3 separate regions of the Homo sapiens genome follow, and regions 1 and 3 are each linked to region 2. Evidence: fine-mapped expression QTL. A gene starts in region 2. Each other region holds a variant in brackets. All regions are shown on one strand. Distances are between the middles of the regions.

Region 1 (8,108 bases), 78 kb after region 2:
GGGAATGTGAGCTGTCGTTTCTTCAAGACTACTGTGGATCTGGAGAGCAAGGGATGGGACTAGGGCAAGTTAAAATAGAAAGCTCATCATTCTTAATGAGATTGAGCTTTTTAAAAATAAATGCAACTTGGATGCAAGCTTTTTATTAATTTTTAGAGTTCTGATAAAGTTGATTCTATTTTCCAGTTTTCTTTGTGCTTTTGTGGAAGAGACAGTTTTTAGAGATGCTTACTCTGCTGTTTTCTGTGATGTCGCCTCCACTTGGGCTTTGCCATCCCACACTGACAGACCTCCATGTTTGACTCTCCCTATCTCCACCCCAACCCCACTCAGACTCTGACTCTCCATGCTAGGCTTACCCTGTGTGTGAATACCTTTTCACCTTGCTTGAAATCTTAACTGTTCATGTTGCGCAGCCTCCTCCTTAACCATCAATCAAGCCTATTATGTAGAAATCTTCCTCACTCTCATAGACTCCAGTATCACACCCTGGTTCATCACTACCTGTGGATGTTCTTCTCACCCCCAATCAGGTTCTGATTCTCTGTGTTGAGCTATCTTCCTATGAGCATACCCACCCTATCCCAATTGGCCTCTTAAACATCTTGTGGGTTACCATCATATGTCAGTGTTCATCTCTTCCTGTTCTAACTGATACCCTACACAGAACTGCATCTTTGTGGGATTGTCCTTTTCATCCTACTCAGGCCCTGAGTAGGATTTTTTTAATCAAATAAAAATCCCTTCAGTTTGAATAGTATAATCATGATATCACTCAGTGAAATCCTTGATATCTTATTATTGTAGTGGTAACTTCTGATGGGTATGGGAATGACAATTCTATACCATGCCTTCTTTATTTTTCATTTTAGTTTTACTGAGATAACATATTTTGAAGCTGATCATTTATATTTCTTAAAGAAGAAATTTATTCTAAAAAATTATGTCTAGATACATTAATTTGTTGTTTTATTCATGTAGTAACCATTTCTTGGGCATCTAGTATTGGCCAGGTTCTAGGCTCTGAATATACAGCTGCAAACCAAATAGTCAGAAGCCCCTGCTTTCACAGTTTTCACATTCATAGAGGAGAGGGAGATGATAGACAAAATAAATAAGTAAATATATTTTATGAGGTAGTAAATGTTGTGAAGAAAAATAAAGCAGGGTAAAAAGAATAGGAAGACATTTCTCTTTTATATGTAGATCAAGAATGAGATATTTGAGCAGGGAACAAACAATGTGGATATTTGAGAGAAAGGGCTGTATCTATGCAGATGGAATAGCTAGAACAAAGACTTCATGTGTGAGCATGTAGATCTGCATTCAAAGAAAAGCAAGATTAATATGAATGGAATGCAAGTACCTAGCGGGGAGAGTTGGAGAAAAGCTAGACAAGTGTAGGGGCTAGATCATGTGGAGTCTTGGAGGTTGGAGGTAAGGGCTTGCCTTTTATTTTGAAAGATGGGATGGCATCAGATTTTTTAAGCAAGGGAGTGACTTCATCATATTTAAAAGTTAAATAGGAAGAGTGATGTTAGTAAAATGTCAGAATAGTAGTTTTCAGCATTTGTTTCTTCACAGAAGCATTTCGAATAACCACTCATAGACAAAAATACCTTCACAAGAGCTAAGGATTCCAAATGATAGATTGTAGCACCCGGGTGTAGCATAGATACAACAAATGATGCATTGAAGAGGATAGGAACTACAGTTGCACATTAATTGTTTCACCCCTTCCCAAGCCTGTGCAGCACAGTATGGAGATAGATGCCCTCCAAGTGGAGGAAGGAGAGTCAAGTGAGCCCCTAACTTTACTGTGAACCCCAGCACTAGAACCACCTCAGTGAACCCCAGTGCCAGGCTGGCACCCATGGACCCAGGCACCAGGCCAGATCCCACAGAACCAGTCTCCAGACCCATCCTTGCGGATCCAGTAACTGAGGCTAGCCTGCTGGAGAAGTCAGGCAGCAAGCCTGCTCGTGGACTATGCCAGCCATGCTGTCCGGAATCTCTGGACAGGCTGACTGGTAAAGGGCTTCCTATGTTAAAGCTCCTCTGTAAAGACTGGAGAGGTGACTACTTCTTCAAATATGCAGACACCAGTGCAAGTCCATAAGGATCTCAAATGATCAGGGAAACGTGACACCATCAAAGGAACAAAATAAAGCTTTAGCTATGATAATTTGTTGATAAATATATAATCTAAAAAGATATAAGTTGTGTCCTCAATAATGTAAACTTGGAGAGGGTGTGGAGAAGTTAAGAGTTTTTGTATGTGATTGAAATTAAATTTTTATCAGCTTAACAACAGACTATTATAACTACAAGATGTCTTATATACATTTCGTGGAGAAAAACCCCTGTAAATACACAAAAGATAAAGAGAAAGCAAATAAGTAC[C/CA]AAAAAAAAAAAAAAAATCAAATCGCAAAGGAAAACATTAAGAGAAGATGAAAGAAATAGAGGAGCTACAAGATAGTCAGAAAACAACAAAATGACAATGTTAAGACTTTATCCACAATTACTTTTAATGTAAATGGATTAAGTTCTCTAATCAAAAGGCAGAGTTTTTTAAAATATATTTTTCAAAAGATCCTACAGTATTATGCCTAAAAGAGATTCATTTTAGCATTAAGGACACACATAGGCTGAAAATGAAGAAATGGAAAAAGATATTTCACGCAAATGGTAACCAGAAGAGAATGGGGTGGCTATATTTATGTAAGATAAAATAGACTTCAAGTCAAAAACTGTCATAAGAGACAAAGTCATTATACAATGATAAAGAAGGCAGTTCATCCAGAAGATATAATAGTTGTAAATATATATACACTCAACATCAGAGCACCAAAATATTTTTTATAATGAGAAAGCCAAGATTCTAAAATCTTAACAGAAATGATAGGAACAATAGATAGTAATATAATAATAGGGACTTTTGTACCTCTGCTTTAGCAATAGATAGATTAGCCAGACAGAAAATCAATAAAGAAATAACAGACTTGAACAACATTTTAGGCCAAATGGACGTAACAGGCATATACAGAGCATTCCATTGAACAGTAGCAGAATATACACTCTTTTTAAGTGCACATTGAACATTCTTTAAGACACATTAGGTCATAAAACAAGTGTTAAGAAATTTGAGAAGATTGAAATTGTATCAAGTATTTTTTGTAAGCATAAGAGTATGAAACTAGAAATCAATAACACCAGGAGGAAAACTGGAAAATTTACAAATATGTGGAAATTAACACATTCCTGAACAACCAGTGGATCAAAGAAAAAAGGGACATTTGAAAAGGTGTCTCGAGACAAAAGACAGTGGAAACACAACATAGCAAAACTTACGTGAAGCAGCAAAAGCAGTTTTAAGAGGGAATTTTATGGTGATAAATGCTTACATTAAGGAAAAAAGAAGATAATCAAATGAACAACCTTACTTTGTATCTCAAAGGACTAGAAAAAGCTTGTCCAACCTGTGGGCCACATGCAGCCCAGGATGGCTTTGAATGTGACCCAATACAGACTTGTAAACTTTCTAAGTTTCTTAAAACATTATGAGAGATTTTTTGCATTTTTTTTTTCCCAGCTCATCAGCTGGCGTTAGTGTTAGTGTAAATTACTTGTGGCCCAAGACAATCCTTCTTCCATTGTGGCCCAAAGAAGCCAAAAGATTGGAAACCTTGTACTAGAATCCAAACCAGACATAAAGTTGTTAGAAGGAAAGGAATAATAAAGATCAGAGCAGAAATAAATGAAATAGGGACTAGAACAACTGTAGAAGAGATAATGAAACTAAGAGTTGGTTTTGTGAAAAGAAACTGAACTGACAAATCTTTAGCTAGACTATGCAAAAAAAGGACTCAATTAAAATTACAAATGAAAGAGAAGCCATTACAGCTGATACAACAGAAATACAAATGAGATAATAAGAGACTACAATGAATAACTATACACAAACAGATGGATAGCCTAGAAGAAATAGAAATTTTTTTCTAGAAGCATAGCGTCTACCAATCATGAAGAAAGAGAAAATCCAATCACACCCAGTGACTGTAAGGAGACTGAATCAGTAATCAAGAACCTCCCAAAAAAGAAAAGCTTTGGACCTGAAGGCTCCACTGGTGAATTCCAACAAACCTTTAAAGAAGACATAGCACAAGTCCTAAAACTCTTCCAAAACCTTAGAGGAGGGAATACTTCCAAACTCATTTTACAAGTCTGGTGTTGCTGTGATACCAAAGCCAAACAAGGACACTAAAAGAAAAAAAAAATACAGGTCAGTATCTCTGATTAACGTAGACGCAGAAATCCTCAACAAAATACTACTAAACTGAATTCAGCAACACATTAAAAGGTTCACACACAGTGAGCAAGTGGGATTTATCCCAGGGATGCAAGGATGGTTCAGCATATGCAAGAACCAATAAATGATACAACACATTAACAGAATGAAGGACAGAAATTGTGTGATCTCTCAATAGATACAGAAAAAACATTTGACAAGATTATCACTTTGTGATAAAAACTCAACAAATTAGGGATAGAAGGTACGTATCTCAACACCATAAAGATTATATAAGCCCTCAGGTAGCTGGAAGCTTGTCCTCTTAAGATCAGGAAGAAGACAAGGATTTCTTCTCTCATCACTTCTAGTTTATAAAGTACTGTACATCTGAATCAAAGCAGTTAGACCTGAAAAAGAGATAAAAGATGTGGAAATCAATAAGGAAAAAGTAAAATTGTCTTTCTGTAGATAACATGATCTTATATGTAGGAAACCCTAAGGACTCCGCCAAAAATGTTAGAATTAATAAATGAATTCAGTAAAGTTGCAAAATATAAAATTAGCTTACAAAAACCAGTTGTGTTTCCATAAACTAACAATGAATAAGAAGTTAAGAAAACAATCCCCTGTACAGTAGCATAAAAATAAAAAGGAATAAATTTAACAAAGGAGGTGAATGATCTACACAGAAATCGATAAAACATTGATGAAAGAAATTGAAGAAGACACATAAATGGAAAGATATCCTGTTTTTGAATTTGAAGAATTAATATTATTAAAATGTCCATACTACCCAAAGCAATCTATATATTTGATACAACAGCTATCAAAATTCCAATGATATTTTACACAGAAATAGGAAAAGCAATCCTAAAATTTGTATGTAACCACAAAAGACTCCAAGCAGCCATAGCAAGAACAATTCTGGAAGCATCATACTACCCGATGCCTCCATAATTGTTCAAAATATACTACAAACCTAGTAATCCAAACAGTGTGGTACTGGCATAAAACCAGAGATAAAGACCAGCAGAACAGAACAGAAAGCTTATACCATGTGTACAATCAGTTGATCTTTAACAAAGATGTTAAGAACACAGAATGGAGAAGTGATCGTTTCTTCAATAAATGGTGTTGGAAAAACTGAATATCCATATGCAGAAGCATGAGCATAAAAATTTCATTCCTGTACTATATATAAAAACATGAAAATAATTACACCATGTACAAAAATCAACTCAAAATAGATTAAAGACTTAAAGAGCGAAAACTGTAAAATTACCAGAAGAAAACAAAGGGAAAAGTTTCTTGACATTGGTTGGGGCAATGATTTTTTGGATATGACCCCAAAAGCATAAGGAATAAAAGCGAAAATAGAGAAATGGTATTGCATCAACTGAATAAGCTTCGGCACAGCAAAGGAAATGATCAACAGAGTGAACAATAATTGACAGAATAGGAGAAAATATTTGCAAACCATACATTTAATAAAGGCTTAATATCCAAAATATATTTAAGAACTCAATGATACAAAAACAACCCAAGTTTTTAAGATGAACAAAGGACTTGCATTGATGGTCTTCAAAAGACAACATACAGTGTACATCAGGTATGTGAAAAAATGCTCAACGTCATTAATCATCAGGGAAATGCAAATAAAAACCACAATGAGATGTCACCTCACACCTGTTAGATGTCACCTCATACCTATTATCCAAAAGACGATAATAAGACTGTAAGTGTTGGTGGGGATATAGAGAGAATAGAACTCTTTTACACTGTTGTAAATTGGTACAGCCATGTACTGAAAAATAGTATGGAGTTTCATAAAAAAATTAAAAAGAGAACTACCATATATGATCCATCAATCTCATTTCTTTGACTTCTTGGTACGTATCTAGAGGAAATGAAATTATTATATTGTGAAATGTCTACGTTCCCATGTTCATTGCAGCATTGTTTACAATAACCAAGATATGAAATCAACCTATGTCTTCATTGATGGAAGAATACACACAGAAAATGTGACGTTCAGCCTTCAAATCTAGGAAATCCTGATATTGGTGACATGATCTGATCTTGGCCCACTGCAACCTCTGCCTCCCAGGTTCAAGCGATCCTCCCACCTCAGCCTCCCAGGTAACTAGGATTATAGCCATGTCTGGCCAATTTTTCTGTATTTTTGGTAGAGGTGGGATTTCACCATGTTGGCCAAGCTGGTCTTGAACTCCTGACCTCAAGTGATCCGCCCGCCTCAGGCTCTTAAATTACTGGGATTACAGGTGTGAGCCACCACGCCTGGCCTAATAATGTCTTTTCAATTGATTAAAACTTACAGGCACAGGGCTGTTTTTATTTTTGATTTAGGACAGACTTAAGAGGTCATCTGTAGATTGTTACAGACAATGAAACTACTAGTTTCTCTTAAATATTGCCCTCTTTCACACTAGTTAACCTTAATTTTTTGCCTTTTTACGTTTTGTTTTTTTCAGCTTTTAATAAAGCAGTAATTTAAGTGATTTTTTCCAGTTAAATTTTTAAAATATAGTCTTCACTTTTAGATAAATTTTAGGTTCATAGCAAAATTGAGTTGGAAGTACAGAGTTCCCGTATATTCCCTTTTCCACCCTACAAGCGAAGTCTTCCCTGCCACCACCATCTTGCATCAGAGTAAGCACATTCATTATTATTGATGAACTTGCATTAACATATTATCACAGAAAGTGCATAGTTTACATTAGGGTTTTTACTGTTGTAGGTTCAATGGATTTTGACAAATGTGTAATGACATATAACTATCACTATAGTATCATAGGGAATTGCTTTACTGCCCTGAAAATTCCTGTGTTCCACCTATTCATCCCTCACTCCCCCAACCCCTAGCAATAACTGATTTTTTTTTTTTAAGTTTACTTTAAGTTCCAGGATACATGTGCAGAATGTGAAGGTTTGTTACATGGGTATACATGTGCCATCATGGTTTGCTGCATCGATCAACCTGTCGTCTAGGTTTTGAGCCCTGGCTGCATTAGGTGTTTGTCTTAATGCCCTCCCTCCCCTTGCCCCGCACCTCGCAAAAGGCCCTGGTGTGTGTTGTTCCCCTCCGTGTCCATGGGTTCTCATTGTTCAATTCCCACTTATGAGTGAGAACATGCAATGTTTGGTTTTTTGTGCCTGTGTTAGTTTGTTGAAGATGATGGCTTCCAGCTTCATCCATGTTCCTGCAAAGGACATGAGCTCATTCTTTTTTTGTGACTGCATAGTATTCCATGGTATATATGTACCACATTTGTTTATCCAATTTGTCATTGATGGATGGGCATTTGGGTTGGTTCCATGTCTTTGCTATTGTAAATAGTGCTGCAGTAAACATATGTGTGCATGTGTCTTTATATTAGAATGATTTATACTCCTTTGGCTATATACCCAGTAATGGGATTGCTGGGTCAAATGGTATTTCTGGTTCTAGATCCTTGAGGAATCGCCACACTGTCTTCCCCAATGGTTGAACTAATTTACATTCCCACCAGCAGTTTAAACGTGTTCCTGTTTCTCCACAGCCTGGCCAGAGTCTGTTGTTTCCTTACTTTTTAATAATCACCATTCTGACTGGCGTGAGATGGTGTCTCATTGTAGTTTTGATTTGCATTTCTCTAATGATCAGAATCACTGATCTTTTTATTCTCTCCCTGGTTTTATCTTTGCCAGAAAGTCTCATAGTTGGATTCATACAGTATGTAGCCTCTGCAGATTGGCTTCTTTCATTTAGAAATGTGCATTTAAAATTCTTTTGTGTCTTTTTGTGGCTTGATAGCTT
Region 2 (11,044 bases):
GACAAATGTACTAAGAAAACCTTTCGAAACCTGAATTGAGGAAATAAAATCTTAGTAGTCTTTCAATTTTTCTTGGTACATACCACAGTAAAATATTGCATCTATTTTTTGAACTATGCTTCACATTACTCTGTGCTTGCTTTTTACCCCAGGAAAGACATGCAAGAAATGCCCCTTGAAGGGTTTCTAAACGTTGTACAATGCTTACTACCCTTTCCCTCTTCCCCACTTTCAGGCCCCTGAGATGGATTCATCTGATACCAGGAGCCTCTAGGACCCAGAAATTTAACTGTCAATCAAGAGGCATGTGAGGGAAAGTCCAGCCCAGCCTGGGTGCCAGAAGGTCTGGATTCCTGGTCTGCACATTCCCTACAACTCTGGGCAGAGATCTCATATGTACTTCTGGCTCAGCTACTAACTTAGCTGTGTGGCTTTAGGTGACCCACTTAACTTCTCTGAATCTGTTTCTCCATTTGTAAAATAAAAGGTTTGGACTAGGGAATCCCCAAATTTCCTTTCAGTATAAAAGTTCCATGATTACCAGTGACCTGCTCAAGGTTCATTATTTCCCTCATGTTTAAAGCACAGAATCTTGTCCACTTCATAGGGAGGTGGTGAAAGTCTATGCACATGTGCTCAGTAAATCTTAGGCCAACACAAATGTCAGCTATCATCATTATTATAAGAATTCTTTATGCAGCTCTTTCTTCAGAACATGTTTTATATCTTTTACCATTTGTGCTAAAGTGCAATTTTTGCCTTAGAGAAATTCTCAAAATTCAGGCTTTGGTTTGACAAAAGGAGACAAGGCGTCAGTTCAGGTAGATGAAGTTGCTGCAAATGACAGCAGCATCTAAAATTTCTTAGGAAGGAAGTGGGCTAAGACCTACCCTTAGCCCCCAGAAAGACAAATTCTCCTCAATTTCATTTAGGGGCATGACCATTTCTTATTAAGAAACAGAACTCTCAAATGAGGCTTTACCCTAAGAATGAAAAGGCCTTGGAGAGTTCCAAAGGCATTAATAGTAAATCTAGGTGCTTATCTTTTGCCTTCAACTGTGCTTTTTCAAGTACTTTACCCAAATTAATTAATTAGTGCTCCTAAACCCACACCAGCCATCACTTTGCCTTTGGGATGGAGGGAGGTGATATTATCTGAGCTTTGCATTAGGAGAAAGCCCCTGGGTTGACAGTCCCTCTGTCCATACCCGGTGGAATCCTCTCCTGCCAACAGTGGCAAACTCCTTTGTTTGTTTGTTTTGAGGTGGAGTCTGTCTCTGTCACCCAGGCTGGAGTGCAGTGGCGGGATCTCAGCTCACTGCAACCTTCGCCTCCTAGGTTCAAGAGATTCTCCTGCCTCAGTCTCCTGAATAGCTGGGACTACAGGCATGCACCACCACGCCCAGCTAATTTTTTTGTATTTTTAGTAGAGATGGGGTTTCACCATGTTGGTCAGGCTGGTCTCAAACTCCTGGCCTCAAGTGATCCGCCCACCTTGGCCTCCTAAAGTGCTGGGATTACAGGCATGAGCTACCACACCCGGCCAGCAAACTTTCTTATCTCTTGTTCTCCATTCCCAGGACTCCCATGGTACCAACTCAGTACCTTGCTCAGCATCCCAGGGTGTTAGAACTGAATGGCTGCTTATGGACTCCCTGCAATGGGCACCTCCTTCTTTTACAGCACAGAAAATTGAAGCATTCAATTCACTCAGGGAGAGGAAGTGAAACACCCAAAGCAACACAGCTAGTTAGGGACAGGGTCACTACCTTGTCTTAAGAGGCGAAAAATAGGAACTATCTCCCACCCTCTCCCCTGACAAAACCAAACACTCTTTGCGCCCCTCCAAGTATCTCAATACTGCTTAAGCCTGAGGAGTACGGGGAAGATGAAGTATGTAACGTTTATCTACTCACAAAGCACAGAGTTTCTGTTGCCACCTCTGAGCAGCTGTCTTGTTCTGGGCAACTGTGATCTCCCTTCCTCTCCTAAGCTCTTGGAATGAATCTTTCTTAAGGGAAATGGAAGTTGCAATTCCATTATTCTGTATAGAGTGAGTTAAGGGGAAGGCCTCTCTCCTTTTCTGTCATCTAATAGCTAAATTAACATAAGCCCATAGGCACAGGGATTCAGGTAACAGAAACCTAGTTTGTGACAATTACAACGTGAAATGAAAACATACATTGTGGCCCAGAAGCCCGGGCAGCCCTAGGCTTCAGATATTACCTACCCTAAAGTAGTATAATGCCTTTTACCAAGAACACAGCTGAATCAACTGTGCTTTTCATAGAACAGGCACACACTAAAATATTTGTGGATTGATTTGGTAGGCAAAAATTCTTGGCACTTGGATACTTCTCCATTTTCAGCTTATTCTTAAAAAAATTTTTTTTGTTAAATGTTCAGCTGCAAAGGCACAGGTGACTAAGTGTTCAACACAGCTGGAAGGAATGTTGGTGACAGTGGCTGTCATCTATATTTCCCAAGTTGGTTTCTAAATAACACTGCTTCTGGGGTATCTTGAGAAAAAAAGGTTCTGTGTTTAAACAAGGTAGGAAACATTACTAATCTTCCTACCTTGGTCTCCCAAGACACTAAAGGCACATAGCTTATTAAAAACACTGAGAAGGCTGGGCACGGTGGCTCATGCCTGTAACCCCAGCACTTTGGGAGGCCGAGGAGGGCAGATCACTTGAGATCAGGGGTTCGAGACCAGCCTGGCCAACATGGTGAAACCTCAACTCTACTACAAATATAAATATTAGCCAGGCGTGGTGGCAGGCGCCTATAATCCCAGTTACTGGGGAGGCTGAGGCAGGAGAATCACTTGAATCCAGGAGGCACAGGTTGCAGTGAGTCAAAATAGTGCCATTACACTCCAAACTGGGCGACAAGAGCAAAACTTCATCTCAAAAAACAAACAAACAAACAAAAAACCACTGAGAAGAGTTGTGGGTAAAGAAACAGTTTTATTTTTGTTTAAACGAGTTATTTCCAAGACCATTTGACCATGGAACAATCCCTCCCACATTTTTTTTTGCATGATATCTATTAAAGTTCCACAAAATTCATGTTCTTTGGAAAATAACTTGGGAATTACTGATTGAGCCCAATTTCTGAATTTTATTGGTAAAGAAAAAGGTCCTGAGAGGGGCTGAAGTTCTTACAGGAAGTTAGTGGGGGAGGTAGGACGACAACCCTATTTCCTGAGTGTCTGGCCCAACCTTGTCAACCACACGCAAATACGGCAGCATTCTCAAAGGTGGGTTCTGGGATCCCAGCCATCATGGGTACTGCTTGAGATGATACGCAAAAAGGACATGAACGTTTTCCTCCCTAATGGGTCCTTTGGGGGCAATTTGCTAAAACATAACAGGTTGTTTTAGATGCTTCTTAAAATTGGTAATCATATCCCATTCTTTCTTTATCTCATAGAACTCGGGATGCCTACCCAACACAGCCTGATTATGCTATATGTGCTTAGTAAGTACATTCAATGAATGACTAAATGAAAGACAGGGAGGAAGAAGGAAACAGTCCAGAACTGAAAGGGATGAGAAGAGAAAAAATGTGGAGAAAGAGAAGGATGGGTAACAAAGGAGCCAGCAGTCACTGATCAGTAGAGTATAGGTGAGAGAGGGGAAAGGAGACAGCTGCAGATAATGGAAAATAACAAAACAAAACTGAGGTCTGGGAAGCTCCGATTTTAAAAAGTGAACATGAGTTATGAGACTAATTCAGATACTGGCCACACCAGGAGGCCCCCGCCCAGGAGATGAGGATGACCACCAACTGCTGAGAATCTTTGTAAACTCAAATCAAGGTGTATTTATTGCACAGGCACAATAAATGAACAAGGCATCTTAAGTACTACAATGACAGGTGAGTGGGTCAGGCACAGTGGCTCACGCCTGTAATCCCAGCACTTTGGGAGGCCGAGGCAGGCAGATCCCTTGAGCTCAGGAGTTCAAGAGAAGCCTGGGCAACATGGCAAAACCCCATCTCTACTAAAAATACAAAAAACTAGCTGGGTGTGGTGGCACAGGCCTGTAGTCTCAGCTACTTGGAAAGCTGAGGTGGGAGGATGGCTTGACCCCAACAGGTTGAGGCTGCAGTGAGCCAAGATTGCACCACTGCTCTCCAGCCTGGGCAACAGGGCAAGACCCTGTCTCAAAACAACAACAACAACAAAATCACAGATGAGTAAGACACAGGTCTTTCCCTAAACAAGGTTACAGTCTAATGGGCAGAAGGGCTAGGACAGGGACTCAGATGAAATAATGCCAGGTAGAATGTGATCAGTGCCCCTGGAGGTGTGGCAAGCCAACACTGTGAGGAATCAGCGGCAGGAAGATCATATCAAATCACGAGGCTCCAGAAAAACTACGAGGGTCCAGGAATGGTGGCTCACGCTTGTAATCTCAACGCTTTGGGAGGCAGAGGTGGGCTGATTGCTTGAGCCCAGGAGTTCAAGACCAGCCTGGACAACATGATGAAACCCTGTGTGTACAGAAAATACAAAAATTAGCTGGGCATAGTGAGCTGTGCCTGTAGTCCCAGTTACTCAGGAGGCTGAGGTGAGAGGATCGTTGAGCTAGGGAGGCTGACGGAGGTCGAGGCAGCAGTGAGCTGTGATCATGCCACTGCATTCTCCTGGGCTAAAGGGCAAGCCCCTGCCTCAATTAAATAAAACAACAACAACAACAAAATAAAAAACTACCAGGAAGGGCCATGAGGCACAGAAGGATTGCATCAGGCGGAGATAGGAGATGAGAAGAGAGACATTTCAAGGTGATATATAAAGAACTACCAGGGGGTGAGGAAGCATATGGGGAGATGTGTGGAGACACAGCCTGAAAGTCTTGAAGTCACATCACGGAGCCTTGAATGACCGACCGAGGCGCTGACACTCAAGAGAGGCAATGGGAAGCCAGTGAAGGTTTGTGTGTGTGTGTGTGCGTGTGTGTGCAGAGAAATAGTAGCATTAGAGATGATTCCCAGGCAGGGTGACTGGGCAGCCAAGGGAAAGCGCTGGCCTGTGCGGGATGAGGCAGTTGGGTTCTGGAGAGCACAAGCAATCATTCGGTGCTGCCCATCAGACAACTGAAAAATCTGATCAGAGGCAGTGGCTAAGTCCCCGCCTGGGAACACAAAGGAAGCCTAAGGTTCTGGTTATCACCCTCAGGGGACCGTGACCTTGAAAGAGTAAGGATAGTACCAGCCAAAACCAATGCAGCCAAGAGGAAAAGTCACAGAGAACAGCGAGGGGAGGTGGAAGTTTCAATACAGAAATTGTAGCCATGGCTGAGAACCCCAGCACTGGAGGCCGGAATTTGTGCGTTTGAACGCCAGAGGCTTGGCTAGTCATGATTAGCAAAGGAACTTCAAAGAGTTTTGGAGCCTGCTTTATATCTGTGAAATGGGAATTATTTCCATCTCAAAGGTTTGAGGGGATTCGCTGAGAGAAACTTCTTAGCATGGGATCTCCAGAAACTGGAAGCCACAGAGAAAGCAGCGGCCAGAGGGAGGAGGAATCGGACAGGCTGATCACTTGGAGTGTTCGCCTAAGCAGTTTCTAGAAATGGAGGCAGGGACCATCAGGAAGCTCAAAACCTTTGCTTCAGCCGAGTTTGCAGAACGCCCTGTGAGGAGAATGGGTGAGCTGGGTCGAGGAAGCTTCATCCTCGTCCCCATCCCCCAGCACTGCCCTTTTCCCAACGCTCCCATCCCGCCACGCCTCCCAACATACCCCCACCCCGACTTCCCGCTCAACTCCCGCTCCAGCCAGTCCCAGGAGCCACATGCGCATGCGCCCTCCCGCGCCCCTCCCCAACTTTCCACGTTTCACTCCTCTCCCTTTTCCTCCTCAGCTCCGGCTCCGCCGCCACGATTGGCCAGCCGACCACCCGGCCTCGGCCAATAAGCGCCGCCCTCTCGCCCCCGTGTTACTGGGTAGAAGAAAACAAAAACAAACAGAGCGAGAAGGGCCAGAGACTCTCCGAGGCGGCGGCAGAGACAGAAGAGCGGGGTCGGGGCCGGCTGACCAGGAACCTGGGCGAGCAGCGGCGGGGGCCCGAGGGGTCAGTACCAGTAGGCGCGGCTCACACGCTCGGGAAGACTGCGCCCTCTCCCCCATCCCTCCTCGGAGGCAGCCGCAAGATGGGAGGGGGCGGGGGCGGAGGCGTGGGGGTCGCGGTCCTGTCAGGTCCGGGCCTGCGGTGCGGGGGTCCGGCTGCCTTCTTGTAGCCCCGCAGGTCCAGCCGCGCCCTCCCCAACGCCCCGGACTGCGGGCATCCGGCCTGGTTCCCTCTTTCTGAGCCCAGCCTGGAGCGTGTCGGCGCGGGCCCGCCCCCTCCCGGAGCCATCTCCCCACTGAGAGGGGCGCGCGAGGCGCTCGCCCTTGAAGGTCCCCCTCAGCCCTCCTCCCCCTCTGGCGGAGGTTGAATTCGGGGGCCGGGATTGGAAGGCGTGTTTCCGGCTGGACTGAAATCCTGTGAGGAAGATTCGCGCCCTCCCCGCCCCCTGCCCTCCCTGGGAATCCTCTGAAGATGCGGCCCCCTGTCCTTCGTGAACCCGGAGCCCCGGCCTCGGCCCCGGCCCAGCCCCTTCCGGGGGCCGACCCGGGCTGGGACTTCGGGGGTCCTAGCCTGAGCCCGCTGCGGGAGAACAGGCCCGGCCGCTGTGGGGAGGGGCCGCGCGCTATCCTCGCCGGGGGCGCTGGGAGGCGAACACGTGCCCGCCGCCCCATCCCTGCGCGAACTTCGTCGCGCCCGTCTTCCGGCAAAGGGTCTCTTTTTTTTAGTTTAGGTAAAATAAAATCTCCCAGAGAAAACAAAGCCGGGAAGGGAGCCCCCTTTCTGTGAAACGCATGCCATCTTCTCCATTTGTCAGTTTGATGCTGTAACGTACATGGGGTTTTGCAAGAGCTTCAAAACTGTCTGCAGACGTCAATTTCGCCCCCCTCCCCCTTGTGAGAACTCGCTACGTAGCCAGCAACTGTGTAGTGTCTACAAATGATGAAAACGATCAGAAATGCGATTAGGTGTCGGGGAAAAAAGGGTTTCCCCTGTTTTTAACTTGTATTTTTACTTTAATTGTTACAATCTTGATATTCTTAACGTGACTTTTTTGGGAAACCACCAAGTGCTTTTTAAGCAAGGAGTTACTGGTATTTATGCCCTTAATATTCCTTCATTATAGGCTTATTGAATACGTTAATATCTCAGTAAGTGTATTTGAATTATAATTGACTGGCTTTTTCTGTGGTACTAATGTGAAAGGAAAAAATATTAGGACTGCAAAAATAAATGCCGCTTGAATATTATCTGTAGTGCTTGCTTTTGCATTACTGTAGTAGAATGCTTTTAGCTGGTTTTAAGCTGCTAATTAGCCGTTCGTAGCCGAAGAATGAATACAAGTAATCCTAGTTAATAAATGGCCAAAGCTTGACTCCCCAAAATGCCAGAGCAATTTATGAGGTATATTTCAGGAAATACATATGTATATATTTCGTGGGGGAGTGGAGGGTCTGTCTCTTAGGGAATGTCTTGGCAGTTGAATACTTCTGATTGTATATTTCGTGTAACACACTGGAGAAAAGAACAGTGTTTAATGTCAGCCTTCATTTTCTTCTAACTTGTATGTATAGTTTTCTCATCGAAAATTCATTTTTGTAGGTTAGTATGAAGGAAATAGCGTTTGGATTTTTTGCTTTATATTTTCTTGTTTGGGCCAATTAAGGGTTGTTAAATAAATTGGAAAAAATCCTACTACTTTAAAGAGCGTAAAAACGTGGAACATGTCTTATCTAAACTCTTAAAACGTGTTTGTTGCTGTCAAATATGACTTGAGTTCCTGATCGGGTTATCATTGCCTAAAGACACAGGACTATTTTTTTTATTAAGATAACTTTGTTTTTATCTTAATAAAAGAGATGATAGTCATTTCCTGACAGTTTTGTCTGACGGAATGCCTTCTGTATAATAGTTTAAAATAATTATTTTTAGTGTTTGGAAAACAGCATTTAAAAGTTTGAACAGCAGAAGTCTGTTTTAAGAAGCTTCTGTTAACCCTTGAAAAGAATCTTCCTGTGGGATATTAAAATTTTGGATTGAACTTGTGCAAACAGTACTGGATTTGGAAGGTCTGGATTCTCATCCTGGCTGTTCCACTAAGCAGCTGTCTGTCCTTGGACATATCACCTACCCTCTCTGAATCTGTTTAGTTGTGTGTAAGGTGGAATACCTACCCGAAGGTTTTTCTGTAAGGTACATTAAATAATACATGTACAATTCTTTTTGAATTGTAAAGGGCTTTATGAACATCAATTATAATCATTTCGCTTATTAGGTTCTGCAGAAAGTATTCTCTCAAAAGTTATACTTTCATCAAGAATGAAAAAGACTTTGTAATGGAACTCTAAAAAACTGAAACACGTATCATATGACATTATTCCTTTCCTATATGTATTTCATGCATGGAATTAAAACAGAATGTAGCCTTTTCAGCCATGAAGGATGCTGAGTGTTTAGATTTGCAAACCATTTTTGTTCATATATTTATATGAATCTCTACATATTTTTAAGATTTTTTTTTCATATCTAAAGTTGGCGGGAGTTATAGTGAAAAGTGATTATAAAGATTCACATATATTAATTTATTCTTAACAGAATTAGAGAATGATCTCACCATTTTCTTAAGTTCCCAAGCAATATGATAGCATATTAGTCTGAGGATTATACCATAGTAAGAAGCCTATAATTTTAACATAAGGTCCATTTGTTTTTGTTTCACAAAATAATACCGTTTTCTGAAGAAAAGGGCTATAAACTTATGTTAGCAAATAGTAGTACATAATGAGGAATTTAAAAGTCAGTTTCACCTTTGAGTCCCAGGAGGCTCTGTATATATCATTGTTATCCTAAAATGACATCTAACAGTAGGTTAAGTTATATAGGAAAAAATGTGCTTTTCTGTAATTAATTTATTAGGCATTTTCACTAATTTGTGCATTTTATATCTCTGAAGAGCACACTGCTAGCAACCTGATTGTAAATGACCAGAAGGACTTATATCCAACCTATGTGACTTAAACATACACTTAAGTACTCTAAACCACTATTTAAAAAATACTTCTAGAGAGATTCTGAAATCTTAATTTGGTTGCACTTTCTGGTAATATATTTTTTGAAAACTATTTTGATATTTCTTTCATATAACATTATTGGATCTGTATCACTAAGTTAATTGTCTAAAAGGTAACTGATTTCATCAAACCTTCCAGTATTAATAATTTTTAAGCCATTTTGAAACTGAGGCCTAAAATACTGAAATGCTTATGTCGTTGTACTTACTCCTTTCTGAAATGATCAGATTTTTAAAAAATGGATTTCTCATATAAATAATATTATCAAAAAAGGATTTCTCATATAAATAATATTATCAAAAAAGCTGATTTTAAAAGTTTCTCCCAAAGTCTTATTCTAGTAATTATAGAGACCTAGGTAATGAGTGGCAGATATATCTGCCTTTCAGATATGCCGTAATGTGAAAAATAACACAGTCATGTGATATTCTTTATTAACTAAAACTGTGTTGTTTTTATTTTGGAGTAGTTCTCATAATTCATTGGTAGGGAACTATCCAGTATTTATATTCCTATGTATGTATATCAGATTAATTTTGAGGCTTGGTATTCCTAAAAGATTTGGATGTGTGTATTTCTTTAACTTGACGTAAACATGTATCACAAACATATCTTTTAATTCCAATTAAAGGGGTGCTTTGGCACATGCTGAAATCTGGGATTTTTTTTTTTGACTTTGATAAATTTATCAAAAAGATTGGAACCAAATGTTAATTAGGGTAAGTTGTCTTTGAAAGTAAAGTGAACTGTTTTATTTAATGGAATTGTGTGTTTTTTGTTGTTGTCGTTTGTTTTTACAGTGTGCTTAAGTAAGTTTAATTCAGCTTAATTACATCAGTTTAAAAGATCTTGAAGCTTTCTTTTTTTCTTTTAAAAAAACAGATTCTGAAGGAAGATTTCCATTAGGTAATTTGTTTAATCAGTGCAAGCGAAATTAAGGGAAAATGGATGTAGAAAATGAGCAGATACTGAATGTAAACCCTGCAGGTAAGTAAGGATATCCTTTTTTCTTTTTTTCTTCGTTTTGAGACAGGATCTTGCTCTGTCACCCAGGCTGGAGTGCAGTGGTGTGATCATGGCTCACTGCAGTTTTGACTTTCCTGGGCTTAAGAGATCCTCCCCTATCTCAGCCTCCTCAGCAGCTGGGACAACAGGTGTGTGCCACCACACCAGGCTAATTTTTTATTTTTTGTAGAGATAGGATTTCACTATGTTGCCTAGGCTGAAATATCTTGAAGCTTGACTATGTTGTGAGGAAGCTTCAGACCATTCCATATTTTATAAAAACATGATAGAAAAACTATCTTTAAATACTCTTTTATTCATGCTGTAAGAAAACAGGCTATATTATTTTTAAAGTCAAGTTTGTGATTTTTATTTTCATGGAAATTCATTACATGTCCTATTTTTCTGCCTATCCTTTCACATTCCACATATTCCTATTCTCTGTTATATAGTACAGAATAGAGAAGAATAGTGAGCCTGCTTATTTTCACATGGGCTAGTTAGTGATTTCTGTAATATAAACTTACTGGTATCTTTGGTATCTTTCCTAACAAATAATTTTTATATTCTAAATTACCTAGGGTATTTTCCCTAATTCTCCATGGTGCTTCAATAGCATGTTATTATCATAAAAATGAACAGTTTTGTGGAATAGATGACCAAATGTGAGTAACTCAAGATAATTTAAAATGTATTTATAGTTTTAAAAATAATCTCCCAAAAAGTTAATTAGAATTGTGTAATATCTGAATAGTGAGAACAGTTCATATTGGTATACTTTGGATAATTCTTTGTCTTATAATTTTATTAATATTGAAAGCTATTTTCTGTCATTTTAAGTGTATTTCGTAACTAAATACTACATCTTTCTTTCCTCAGTGACTTAACTCACTA
Region 3 (11,044 bases), 210 kb after region 2:
CTTGGCTGTATTAGGAGCTCGGAGCAAGAAGGCGCCCACCGAGAGCGTCTGAAGCGCGAGCCAGGCGCAGTTCGCGGGACCCGGGCCATGGGCCGCTAGCGGTCCTCCAGTTCGGGCCCGGCCTCCCTGCGGCCCCCTCCCTATGTGAGCCGCAGCCAGGCGAGCGGGGCGCCGGAGGAAGAGGAGGACCCACGGGCGCCGGGCCGGAAGGCAGCTGGCAGCAGGCCCAGGCCAGCGGGCGCCCGCGTTCATGTTCCGCCAGGAGCAGCCGTTGGCCGAGGGCAGCTTTGCGCCCATGGGCTCCCTGCAGCCGGACGCGGGCAACGCGAGCTGGAACGGGACCGAGGCGCCGGGGGGCGGCGCCCGGGCCACCCCTTACTCCCTGCAGGTGACGCTGACGCTGGTGTGCCTGGCCGGCCTGCTCATGCTGCTCACCGTGTTCGGCAACGTGCTCGTCATCATCGCCGTGTTCACGAGCCGCGCGCTCAAGGCGCCCCAAAACCTCTTCCTGGTGTCTCTGGCCTCGGCCGACATCCTGGTGGCCACGCTCGTCATCCCTTTCTCGCTGGCCAACGAGGTCATGGGCTACTGGTACTTCGGCAAGGCTTGGTGCGAGATCTACCTGGCGCTCGACGTGCTCTTCTGCACGTCGTCCATCGTGCACCTGTGCGCCATCAGCCTGGACCGCTACTGGTCCATCACACAGGCCATCGAGTACAACCTGAAGCGCACGCCGCGCCGCATCAAGGCCATCATCATCACCGTGTGGGTCATCTCGGCCGTCATCTCCTTCCCGCCGCTCATCTCCATCGAGAAGAAGGGCGGCGGCGGCGGCCCGCAGCCGGCCGAGCCGCGCTGCGAGATCAACGACCAGAAGTGGTACGTCATCTCGTCGTGCATCGGCTCCTTCTTCGCTCCCTGCCTCATCATGATCCTGGTCTACGTGCGCATCTACCAGATCGCCAAGCGTCGCACCCGCGTGCCACCCAGCCGCCGGGGTCCGGACGCCGTCGCCGCGCCGCCGGGGGGCACCGAGCGCAGGCCCAACGGTCTGGGCCCCGAGCGCAGCGCGGGCCCGGGGGGCGCAGAGGCCGAACCGCTGCCCACCCAGCTCAACGGCGCCCCTGGCGAGCCCGCGCCGGCCGGGCCGCGCGACACCGACGCGCTGGACCTGGAGGAGAGCTCGTCTTCCGACCACGCCGAGCGGCCTCCAGGGCCCCGCAGACCCGAGCGCGGTCCCCGGGGCAAAGGCAAGGCCCGAGCGAGCCAGGTGAAGCCGGGCGACAGCCTGCCGCGGCGCGGGCCGGGGGCGACGGGGATCGGGACGCCGGCTGCAGGGCCGGGGGAGGAGCGCGTCGGGGCTGCCAAGGCGTCGCGCTGGCGCGGGCGGCAGAACCGCGAGAAGCGCTTCACGTTCGTGCTGGCCGTGGTCATCGGAGTGTTCGTGGTGTGCTGGTTCCCCTTCTTCTTCACCTACACGCTCACGGCCGTCGGGTGCTCCGTGCCACGCACGCTCTTCAAATTCTTCTTCTGGTTCGGCTACTGCAACAGCTCGTTGAACCCGGTCATCTACACCATCTTCAACCACGATTTCCGCCGCGCCTTCAAGAAGATCCTCTGTCGGGGGGACAGGAAGCGGATCGTGTGAGGTTTCCGCTGGCGCCCGCGTAGACTCACGCTGACTGCAGGCAGCGGGGGGCATCGAGGGGTGCTTAGCCCCAGGGCACTCAGAAACCCGGGCGCTGCCTGCTCTGCGTTTCCTCGTCTGGGGTGGCTCTGCAGCCTCCTGCGGGCGGGCGTCTGCTGCTCCTACAAGGGAAGCTTCTTGCTGCCAGGCCCACACATCCCCAGTTGTTGGTTTGGCCACTCTTGACCTGGAGCCATCTTCCTAGTGGGCCACCCCTAATCACTATTGCTTCCTAAAGGTATTTTCACCCTCTTCGCCTGGTACAGCCCTCACAGCTCTTCAGAGCAAGCACTGGACTACAAGGGCATGGCTCACAAAAGGTTAATGGATGGGGGTTACCTAGCCCTGGCTAATTCCCCTTCCATTCCCAACTCTCTCTCTCTTTTTAAAGAAAAATGCTAAGGGCAGCCCTGCCTGCCCTCCCCATCCCCCGCTGTAAATATACACTATTTTTGATAGCACACATGGGGCCCCCATATCTCTTGGCCTTGGTTTTGATGTTGAAATCCTGGCCTTGGGAGAGATGCCTTCCAGGCAGACACAGCTGTCTGGTTCAGGCCAAGCCCCTTTGCAATGCAAGCCCTTTCTGGTGTTATGAAGTCCCTCTATGTCGTCGTTTTCACCAGCAACTGGTGACTGTCCCTTCGACACGGACCTGCTTTGAGATTTCCTGACAGGGAAAAGATTTCTGTCCATTTTTTTCCTGTGCCTAACAGCATAATTGCCTTTTCCTATGTAAATATTATGATGGTGGATCAAGACATAAGTAAATGAGCCTTTCTGCCTCACATCAGCCCTGTGTATAAAGCCATTATTCTCTGATGCACTGTTTGCCCCAGTAACTCACTTTAAAACCTCTCTTTCCAGTGTTCCCTCTCTCCCTCCAGGGCCACTGCTTGAAGAAGAATATGTATGTTTCTATCTTGTATGTCTGTGTGCCCCTCCTGCCCCGAAAGTGCTGACTATGGGGAAATCTTTTAGCTGCTGTTTTTAGACTCCAAGGAGTGGAAATTATGTGGAAGAAGCAAACCTGATACAATTTGCCCAAGGTAAACAGTTTGAAAAGACAAATGGGCCTGCCAAACTGTACAGTTTCTTCCCCAAGAGCTGTTAGGTATCAAAATGTTGTCCTTTCCCCCCTCCGTGCTTTTCTGGTTGAGATCATGTCATTGATGAACTGCCAAAGTCAGGGGAGGAGGGCAGAGACTTTGTGTTTACATCTGCATTTCTACATGTTTTAGACAGAGACAATTTAAGGCCTGCACTCTTATTTCACTAAAGAAAAACTAATGTCAGCACATGTTGCTAATGACAGTGGATTTTTTTTTAAATAAAAAAGTTTACAGATCAAATGTGAAATAAATATGAATGGAGTGGTCCTCTTGTCTGTTATCTGAGTTTTCAAAAGCTTTAAGACTCTGGGAACATCTGATTTTATGGATTTTTTAAAAATAAAAAATGTACATTATAAAAATTTTTTAAACGTTCCATCAGTAACAAAGCTACCATTTACTAAGTGTTTCTGACATGCTAGACACTGTGGTGAACTGGTTGTAGGCATTGCCTCGTTTACTTTTCTCAAGAACGCTATGAGGTAAGTTTTATTACTATCCCCATTTTACAGGTGAAGAAACTGAGTCTCAGAGCAAGTTTGTTAACCTTGCTCAAGGTTAACAAGTGGTGGAAATGCATCGTACCCAGCTTTATCTGGTTCTAGGGCCTGCACTCTTAACCCCAGAACCTTTCCAGAGTTTTGGCATTAGCCCTTCTCAGAACACTCCCAGTGGAGAGGTGTCTATGCAGTGTGCTATCTATACCAGGTGTGAGATATATCCCAGTATTTAATATACACAAGGTGTATACATACCCCAGTGTCTACATGACCTAATGTGTCTATATACCTCAAAGTGTGTATCTACTCCAAAGTGTGGTATATGCACCAAGTGTGGAATATACTCCAAAATGTATATCACACCTTAAAGCATGATAATATATGACATGTAGCATATACTCCATAGTGTGGTTATGCACTAAGTATGGTCTAAAACCTGAATAGAACCATGTATTAGTTGGTGGTTTGAGTTGTCTCTGGCCAGAAGGCATGCATCCTTCTTGTTGCATTGCTATAATATCAAAGTCTGCTCTGCTGTCTAGGAGGGCTTATGGCCCTCATACTATGGTAATGGCACTTTGAAGCTGGAAGGGGCCTTAGTGATCCAGGAGTCCAACCCCTCATCTGACAGATGAGAAGGCAAATGCAGATGCAAGAGGAAGCGACTTGCTCAGGATCCCAAGGCGCTAGGTGACAGGGCTCTGGCTCCAGGCTGCCCGGGTTAGGGCGCAGCTGAGAGATGTGTAGTAGTAGTTCTGTGTGTGTAGTCAGATGCAGTACTGATGAATAGCCACTTATGGAGGAGGGGGGTTTGAGGGGCAAACACAAGCGTCAGGTTGTGGTTTTGGGGGAGGCCAGCTTTTGTGAGCCCAGTCACCTGTAATATGTGCGGACCAGCTTTGGACACCCCCCAGAAGCAGGTCCTCTGCACCCTCTGGGCCATGCAGCATCTCCTCATCTTCCTTTGCTTCTCTCGTGCAGGAGAGGGTGTCTGTGTATGCAGCAGTGGGAGGGTAGAGAGCCCTGAGAAATGATCTGGGCACTGAGGGGCCTGGGAGAGGGAAGACCATGGCTCTGAGGGGGTGAGGAGTTCCTGCCGTCACCTGGATCCTCTGAGCCGGCACACAGGAGGATGGCCAGGTGCTGGGCTCCAGTGACCCTGGCTCAGAGGCTTCAGAAAACAGCCTCCTGGCCTGTGGTGCCACGGCTGGCTCCCTGGTCTGGTTCTGTGGCCTGCTCCCCATCCCACCCTCACCCCAGCCTCTCCTCTCCCTCCTCACTCCAGTGTACCCATTGCCCCAAAGGCAAACAGTGCCAGACAACAGCCTGCCTGGCGAGCCCCCAGGACCCAGGCTGTGTGTCCCAGCCACAGGAGCAGATACAAATACTGCTTGCTGTTGACTCTCAGCTCTGTCCTGTCTGTCAGGGAAGTGTTTGCCTTGCCTCCACCCGCCGAGGGGGAAGAAGCATGGGCTGAGGTGCTACACGGAGGGGCCTCTGGTGTCATGCTCCCTCCTCCTCGATACAGAAGCAGAGAAACCTCAGAGGTGGATGGAGGTTGCAGAAAGTGGGGGAGAGAGGGCTGGAGCCCAGGCATGGGTGGGTTTCTGAGTTCACAGTAGGAATCACTGTTTATTCATTTGCAAAGGGCTCAAGCAACAGTCTGCCAAGGTGTGGGGTGGGGAGGGAAATTAAGGTGAAATGGCTCCCACAGGGATCTTGGCTTAAAGAGCTAACCCCACATTTTCCTGTGCATAGTATCTGTTCCCGAGTATCTGGGCCAAGAGGGTCTGTCTTCGTGGCCGAATCTCCTGTTTTATGTAACTTTGGTTGGGATATTGAAAGCCATTGGCTTTTGGGTCTGAAGTGTGTCTTGCTAGATTTACTCGTGCAAGTGTGCTGGGTTGGGGGAAGGGTAGTGCCTTCATTTGAGCCTGGGCACAAGCACAGTCTCCTCCTCCCCAAGGCTTTGTTCAATTTCTTCTATGCTAAAAGGCTGGGGGAGAGAATGATGAAAACGTGGCTTGGGCTTTCCCCTGTCTATGACTGTATAATCAAATCAGAGATTTAGAGCCAGAAGCATCCTCATCAATCCTTAACTCTTACCTTGTAGTGGCAGATCAAGGGACCTGAGACCTAGAAAAGCTGTTGGTTATGTAGCATTCCAGGAGCCCCTGAGCCCACTCTTCCATGTGACTCTCCGTCTGATGCCATATGCACCCAACATGAATTCTATTTTGTTTTGGGATGTGGTGAGTTGCTAATCAACCCCAGAGGATCC[C/A]CTGTGCCTGCTTTGTGTCAAGGACCATCCTAGGCATTGCAAGGCAGTTCTCTTCCTTCCCTGCATGCACTGTGCAAAGCTCACCACTTGTCCCTGTGGAGTGAGATTAGGGCCTGCCTCTGCCCTCTGGAAGCTTTGGAGCTACATGGGGAGACAGGATGTTCCTGTGAAAAGCACTCATTAGCCACACACAGTGACAGTGTGGCAGTGGGGGAGAGGATGCTGTGTGCCCACCAAGGGTAATAGGCATCTGTACTGTGAGTGAGCAGTGGGGGAGAGGTGGCTGTGGCTGGGAGCTCAGGGCATAGAATGTGGGAGTTGGGATGTCCACACTCTGAGAAGGCTAGGCCCGCGAAGGAAGCTCTGGTTCTAGCAGCTGAGTCCTGTGGGACCAGTGCCAGGCCTGGGCAGTGGCACCTAGGCCCAAGTCAGACCTCAGCTTTCATCCAACCTCATCTTGGGGATGGCATGACAAGGTCCTGTCCCCATTTGGGGACACCTGTAAGGAAGTCTACGTCCTTGACTCAGTAGCATAATAGGATCCAGGTACCGAGGTCCAGAGCCCAGTGCCAGGTTAGCCCTTTGGCCTCTGCCCTGGGCCCTGCCACCCCTCACAGTGGGCCTGAGAGTCCAGGGTGCAGGAAGGGGCACCTTCCTTAGCAGAGGGCACGCGCGAAAGGGAGGCCACGTCAAGTCACGGAGCAAAATCACTAACACTCAGATTTGTTTTGGAAATAGCATTGATCTATTTGATTACCAGAAATCCTGGGGCTTAGAGTTAGTTAAATACAAAAAAAATAGAACAGGGTCTGTTGGAAATAGCCTAGACTGAGGATTAGGAGGCCTGCGTTCTAGGCCCAGTTTTGTCTTTTACCAGCGATGTGGTCTTGAGCAAATCCCTCTCTGAGTCCCTGCTTCTTCATTTATGAAATGCAAGTGGTTGGTCTAATATTATTTAACAGTGTGTTCTGTGCAGTTAATTCAACTACAAAATCTATATTATCTACATTATCTATTGACATTATCATTCTATCTGTCTCTACTGTCTGTCACCTACGTATCATCTCTTCCCTGTCTGCCACCTATCTGGTGAAATGCTGGGGTAAGCAGTCTTTAATAGGTACATCTCCTTCAGGATCTCTCAGAGCCTTTAATGTGCCTATGTGGTTTCCGATTGTCTGAGAGAGGATGACGTGGTGTGCTGTTTCCCAAACTCCCTGGACTGTGGAATTTCATTTTTTTTTTTTTTTTTAACAGAGCATCTCAGAGACTCATGTTTGCTGGAACTCTTGTTGGGTAATACTGGGTTAAGGGATCTCACGGGGCTTTTCTGATGATCCATTTTATAATTCTATGAAATGCCGGTCTGCTCTCTCCTTCTGTCCAGGCCATGGGTGAGGCACACTGGACAGGGCCAAGCCATGTGCTCTCTGTAGGGAGATCTGGCGCTAACGGCCATTGGCCTTATTGAGGCTGGGGTAGAAGTGAGGGTTTGGTGTGTTTTCCAAACATAGGCTAAGCCTATGTGTATGTGTGTGTAACATGTGAGCGTGTATGGGTGTGTGAGTGTGTATGTATCTCTGTGTGCGTGTAAACAGGCACCAATGGACACTGAGGACCACTTTGCTCACCTGGGCCTGGCGTGGAAGCATCTGGGCAGTTGAGGGTATATGTGTACACACCAGGGGAAGAGGTCACAAAGGGAATTAAAGGGGAGTGTGGTGCGTCTCACTGGTTGTCATGTCAGTTGGCCCCTCCCTGCCTGCGAGTCTGCTCCCCCGAGGTGGAATGCCACTCCCCTTCTAGGGCAATGGAGCCAATCTAGGAGGAGGATGGGATGATGCAATGTGCGCATTCTGGGGCAGCCAACACTGCTTCTCTGGCAGGCATATTCTGTAGCCTCCAGGCTGTCCTGTTCTCTGTGGAAGGAGCAGTTTATCTGACTACAGAGAATTCTGGAGGGGATGGGAGGCAAGAGTGAGAGGCTGTTAATGTTGTCCCCAGGACTTGAGACCTCTTTAAAATCTATACCTGAGAAAAACAAGATGGCACCCTGTGAAGGGATGAAAGAAGGGGAATTGAAAACGGACTGTTCGCAAGGTACAGGCAGGGTTAAGAGAAACTTACAAGGGCCAGGGAAGTACCCTGGGACATGCACAGTGGGAAGCTGTCAGCACCTTCAGAAGGGGCGAGGTGCTACCCACACTACTGGAACTGGGACTTCGGGGAAGGATGCCTGGCAGGCATTGCTGGCAGAGGACCCCTGCAGCCATTGCTAAGCTGGGTCTGGACAGGGAGATTGCAGAGAGAATCGGCACATTCTCCACTCTCACTCCTGCACCCTGATCTGCTGGTGGCTGTCCTTAGGCAGAACTCAGAAAGCACAGAAGAAAGAGTAAGGGGGCGGCTCACAGGGCTCAACCTTCCAGGGCCCAGCATGGACAAGGGCAGAGACTATAGCTGGAGGTGCAAGTAGAGAATATCTACTGTAGAACCCAAAGCCTGAGAAAGGCAGAGTAACAGCACTTTGGGGAACAGGCTGGAGGGAGGCCAGCTGCCTGCTTTCTGCAGTTTGTCCAAGGGCCAGCTGCTTGGGTCACTGGGCATCTGTAGAAGAAAAGCACAGGCCCTCCTTCCTCCCTGACTATGCAGATGCAAGGCTGTGTGTGGGGTTATTATGTGTGTGTGTGTGCGCGTGCGCGCACACACACACACACATACACTCCCCTTCCCTGTCTTCCCTGCAACCTGGTCAGGTGAGAGAGAGAGAGCCCCAGGGACCCATGTGGCTGGCTCTTGGCCACAGTTCTCTGGGTAATCCCCATCCCATGTCTGTGGCTCAGACACAGCTCAGAGCTGCCCAGCAGTGATGGCCACTGAGGCTGGGGCCCGGGTGAGGGGAGATGAGGACTGGCCCAGGCTGATGTCCTCACCTGTCCCCTGGTTACACTGGGGAGTCTGCTGCTCTGTTCTCAGCATGCTCCCTGAACACACTTAAGGGATTATTTTTTATGCCCTAGCCCTAGAGGAGACACGGAGACATTTAATGAATGAATGATAGAGTCCTTCCTTCCTTTATTCATTCAACTATGTTTTGGAGCTGCCCCAAGCTAATGTCACTAACATCCCTCTGTTTGTACTAGGTGTTGGGGTAGAGTGGGGAACAAACTAATTAGGATCTTTACCTCACAGAGCTTCTTTTATTGGGGGACAGCTTCCTCTTGTGTTGGGGCAGAGCTTCTTTTGTTTCGGGAGAGCTTCTTTTGTGGGAGAAGAGCTTCTTCTTTTGTTGGGGGAGAGCTTTTTATTTTGTGAGGGGGAGAACTTCTTCTTTTGTTGGGGGAAGAGCTTCTTTTGTGGTGGGAGCTTCTTCTTTTGTGGGCTCCAGCAAGTGGTAAGCCTGGTGATGCAGGTGCCAGGGTGGGTGGGGAAAGCTAGCCCAGATGAAGGCATTGGGGAGGGAGCCCAGAGAAGTGTGCAGCCAGATGAGAGATGAGAGATGGGCAGGAATAGGTCCAGCGAAGGGACTGGGAGTGCCAGGGGTGGGGGACATTGCATATTCAAGCAACTTATGAAGTCCACTTTAATAGGACCATGAGATGTGAAAGTGGCGAGGCTGGAGGAAGATAGTCCAGATCATGCAGCTGCAGGTAAAGGATTTTATCTTGAGGGCATGGGGAGCCATGAGAGGTTTTTTAGGCAAGGGAGGGACCTGATCAGATTTTTTTTGGTTCAGAACAATCATTCTGGCTGCTGGGTGGAGACTGATTGGGGAGGGTTATTGGGAGCAGTAATTCAGTCAAAGTATTAATAGCCTGACTAGGTTGCTGACACCACAGGGAAGGCCAGGAGCCCTCACTCCCTCAGGGTCACCCAGTGGCAGCGCCAGTGTCTGTGCAGACCCAGATATTGGGATTTTAGAGCTTCCCCTGCCTGCAAAATACTGTGAACCACTGCTCCTACCCTCCATGAATTTCCATCTTCAAGGAGTGGCTCCTTGGCTCAGAGCTTCCTATTCATGGTCAAATGCAAACATCTCCTGGAGTGTGAATTCAGTCAGTCATGGTGGTATGTTGACCTAACAGGCCACGGGACCTGACCTGGTGTGACGCGCTTCTCGTTTCCGAATGTCACCTGTCTTATCGACACAACCAGCCAGGGAGGATTTGAGGAGAGACCGTGGAGCACAAGCATGTCATGTCCCCAAAGATTAGTTGATTATGAAGGGTGAATGAGAGCTTGCAAGGACTCACCCCGGCCAACCCCATGGATTCTGCTTGGGATCAGAAGATCTGATAAGCCCCAAATCTGGAACTTGTGCTGCTGACTCCTGTTCCGGGCTGTTCAGGCCCTCAAAGATAAAAGTCATCCATTTCCAAGAAGTTAGGGAACCTGTGACTTGACAGAGATGTCTACTTTGCCCGCCGTGAGGAGCTCTCAGCAGCGAACTCACTGCTCTTGGCTGGGCCTTTTCCTATGACCCTCCACATTTGCTTGTTTGCCTGAAACCTAATCCTTCCATTTTTTAAAAATATATTTTTTAATTGTACTTTAAGTTCTAGGGTACATGTGCACAATGTGCAGGTTTGTTACATATGTATACATGTGCCATGTTGGTGTGCTGCACCCATTAACTCGTCATTTACATTAGGTATATCTCCTAAAGCTATCCCTCCCTCCTCCCCTCACCCCACAACAGGCCCCGGTGTGTCATGTTCCCCTTCCTGTGTCCAAGTGTTCTCATTGGGATTTTGAACACTTACTTGGAATGGAGCTGTCCCTCCCAGGAGCCCCCAGAGAGGGCAGCCCAGGTGAAGGCATTGAGGACGGAGCTTTGGGTTCTATATTAGATATTCTCTACTTGCACCTTTGGCTATAGTCTCTGCCCTTGTCCATGCTGGGCCCTGGAAGGCTGAGCCCTGTGAGCTGCCCCCTTACTCTTTCTTCTGTGCTCTCTGAGTTCTGCCTAAGGGCAGCCACCAGCAGATCAGGGTGCAGGAGTGAGAGTGGAGAATGAGCTGATTATCTCTGCTCTCTCCCTGTCTGGACCCAGCTTAGCAATGGCTTCAGGGGTCCTCTGCCAGCAATGCCTGCCAGGCATCCTTCCCCGAAGTCCCAGTTCCAATAGTGTGGGTAGCACCTCGCCCCTTCTGAAGGTGCTGACAGCTTCCCACTGTGCAATTCCCAGGGAGGGAATGGCTGGTATTGCTGAGAAGGGCACTTTAAAGCTAAAACTTTGGAATCAGGAAGACCTGAATTAAAATCCTGGTTTCATCACATAGCTTTGGTTTAACCTTGAACAGATGGCTAAGCACCAGTTTCTCCACATGTAACTTGTAGAAGAAGTTGCCAGTGTTTTGGTAGGTTGCTTAGGCCTATGCTTGGCATCTGGTAGAGGCTCAGTAGTGCTAACGTTTTCTTCTCTAGTTTGGGAGTTGGGTGGTTCCTTTTACTCCTGTAACTG

Alleles and levels. Alleles are on the strand shown, and positions count from the first base shown. SD is a standard deviation of normalised expression in the study named.
For the expression in CD4 T cells of the gene that starts at base 5,990 in region 2, CA is the high allele of the variant in region 1 and C is the other (large effect, 0.86 SD a copy in Kasela 2017).
For the expression in CD4 T cells of the gene that starts at base 5,990 in region 2, allele C in region 3 goes with a higher level than allele A (small effect, 0.23 SD a copy in Kasela 2017).

What was found. PIP is the estimated chance that this variant, and not a neighbour inherited with it, causes the effect. A credible set is the group of variants that fine-mapping cannot tell apart.
Region 1: its variant is the best candidate, but not a certain one, in a credible set for the expression of PDCD4 in CD4 T cells (Kasela 2017, PIP 0.82).
Region 3: its variant is the best candidate, but not a certain one, in a credible set for the expression of PDCD4 in CD4 T cells (Kasela 2017, PIP 0.52).

Annotation. Positions count from the first base shown.
Region 1 is chr10:110,945,363-110,953,470 of GRCh38, forward strand. The region is part of intron 1 of SHOC2 (SHOC2 leucine rich repeat scaffold protein); the gene reads left to right. Among named protein-coding and RNA genes, the nearest start is that of SHOC2, 30 kb to the left of the region's middle. The variant C/CA (reference allele first, on the strand shown) is at 2,404.
Region 2 is chr10:110,865,939-110,876,982 of GRCh38, forward strand. PDCD4 (programmed cell death 4) reads left to right here and starts at 5,990. Exons shown (of 12, transcript NM_014456.5): 1 at 5,990-6,080; 2 at 10,028-10,132. The coding sequence starts at 10,090. It overlaps PDCD4-AS1 (PDCD4 antisense RNA 1), which reads right to left and starts at 4,966. Exons shown (of 1, transcript NR_026932.1): 1 at 2,952-4,966. LOC124902500 (a long non-coding RNA gene) reads left to right here. Exons shown (of 2, transcript XR_007062288.1): 2 at 236-510. RefSeq lists enhancers at 1,611-1,660, 4,488-5,098 and silencers at 1,781-1,850, 6,103-6,152, 6,183-6,332, 6,543-6,742.
Region 3 is chr10:111,077,747-111,088,790 of GRCh38, forward strand. ADRA2A (adrenoceptor alpha 2A) reads left to right here. Exons shown (of 1, transcript NM_000681.4): 1 at 1-3,161. The coding sequence starts at 251. The coding sequence ends at 1,648. Among named protein-coding and RNA genes, the nearest start is that of ADRA2A, 6.2 kb to the left of the region's middle. The variant C/A (reference allele first, on the strand shown) is at 5,581.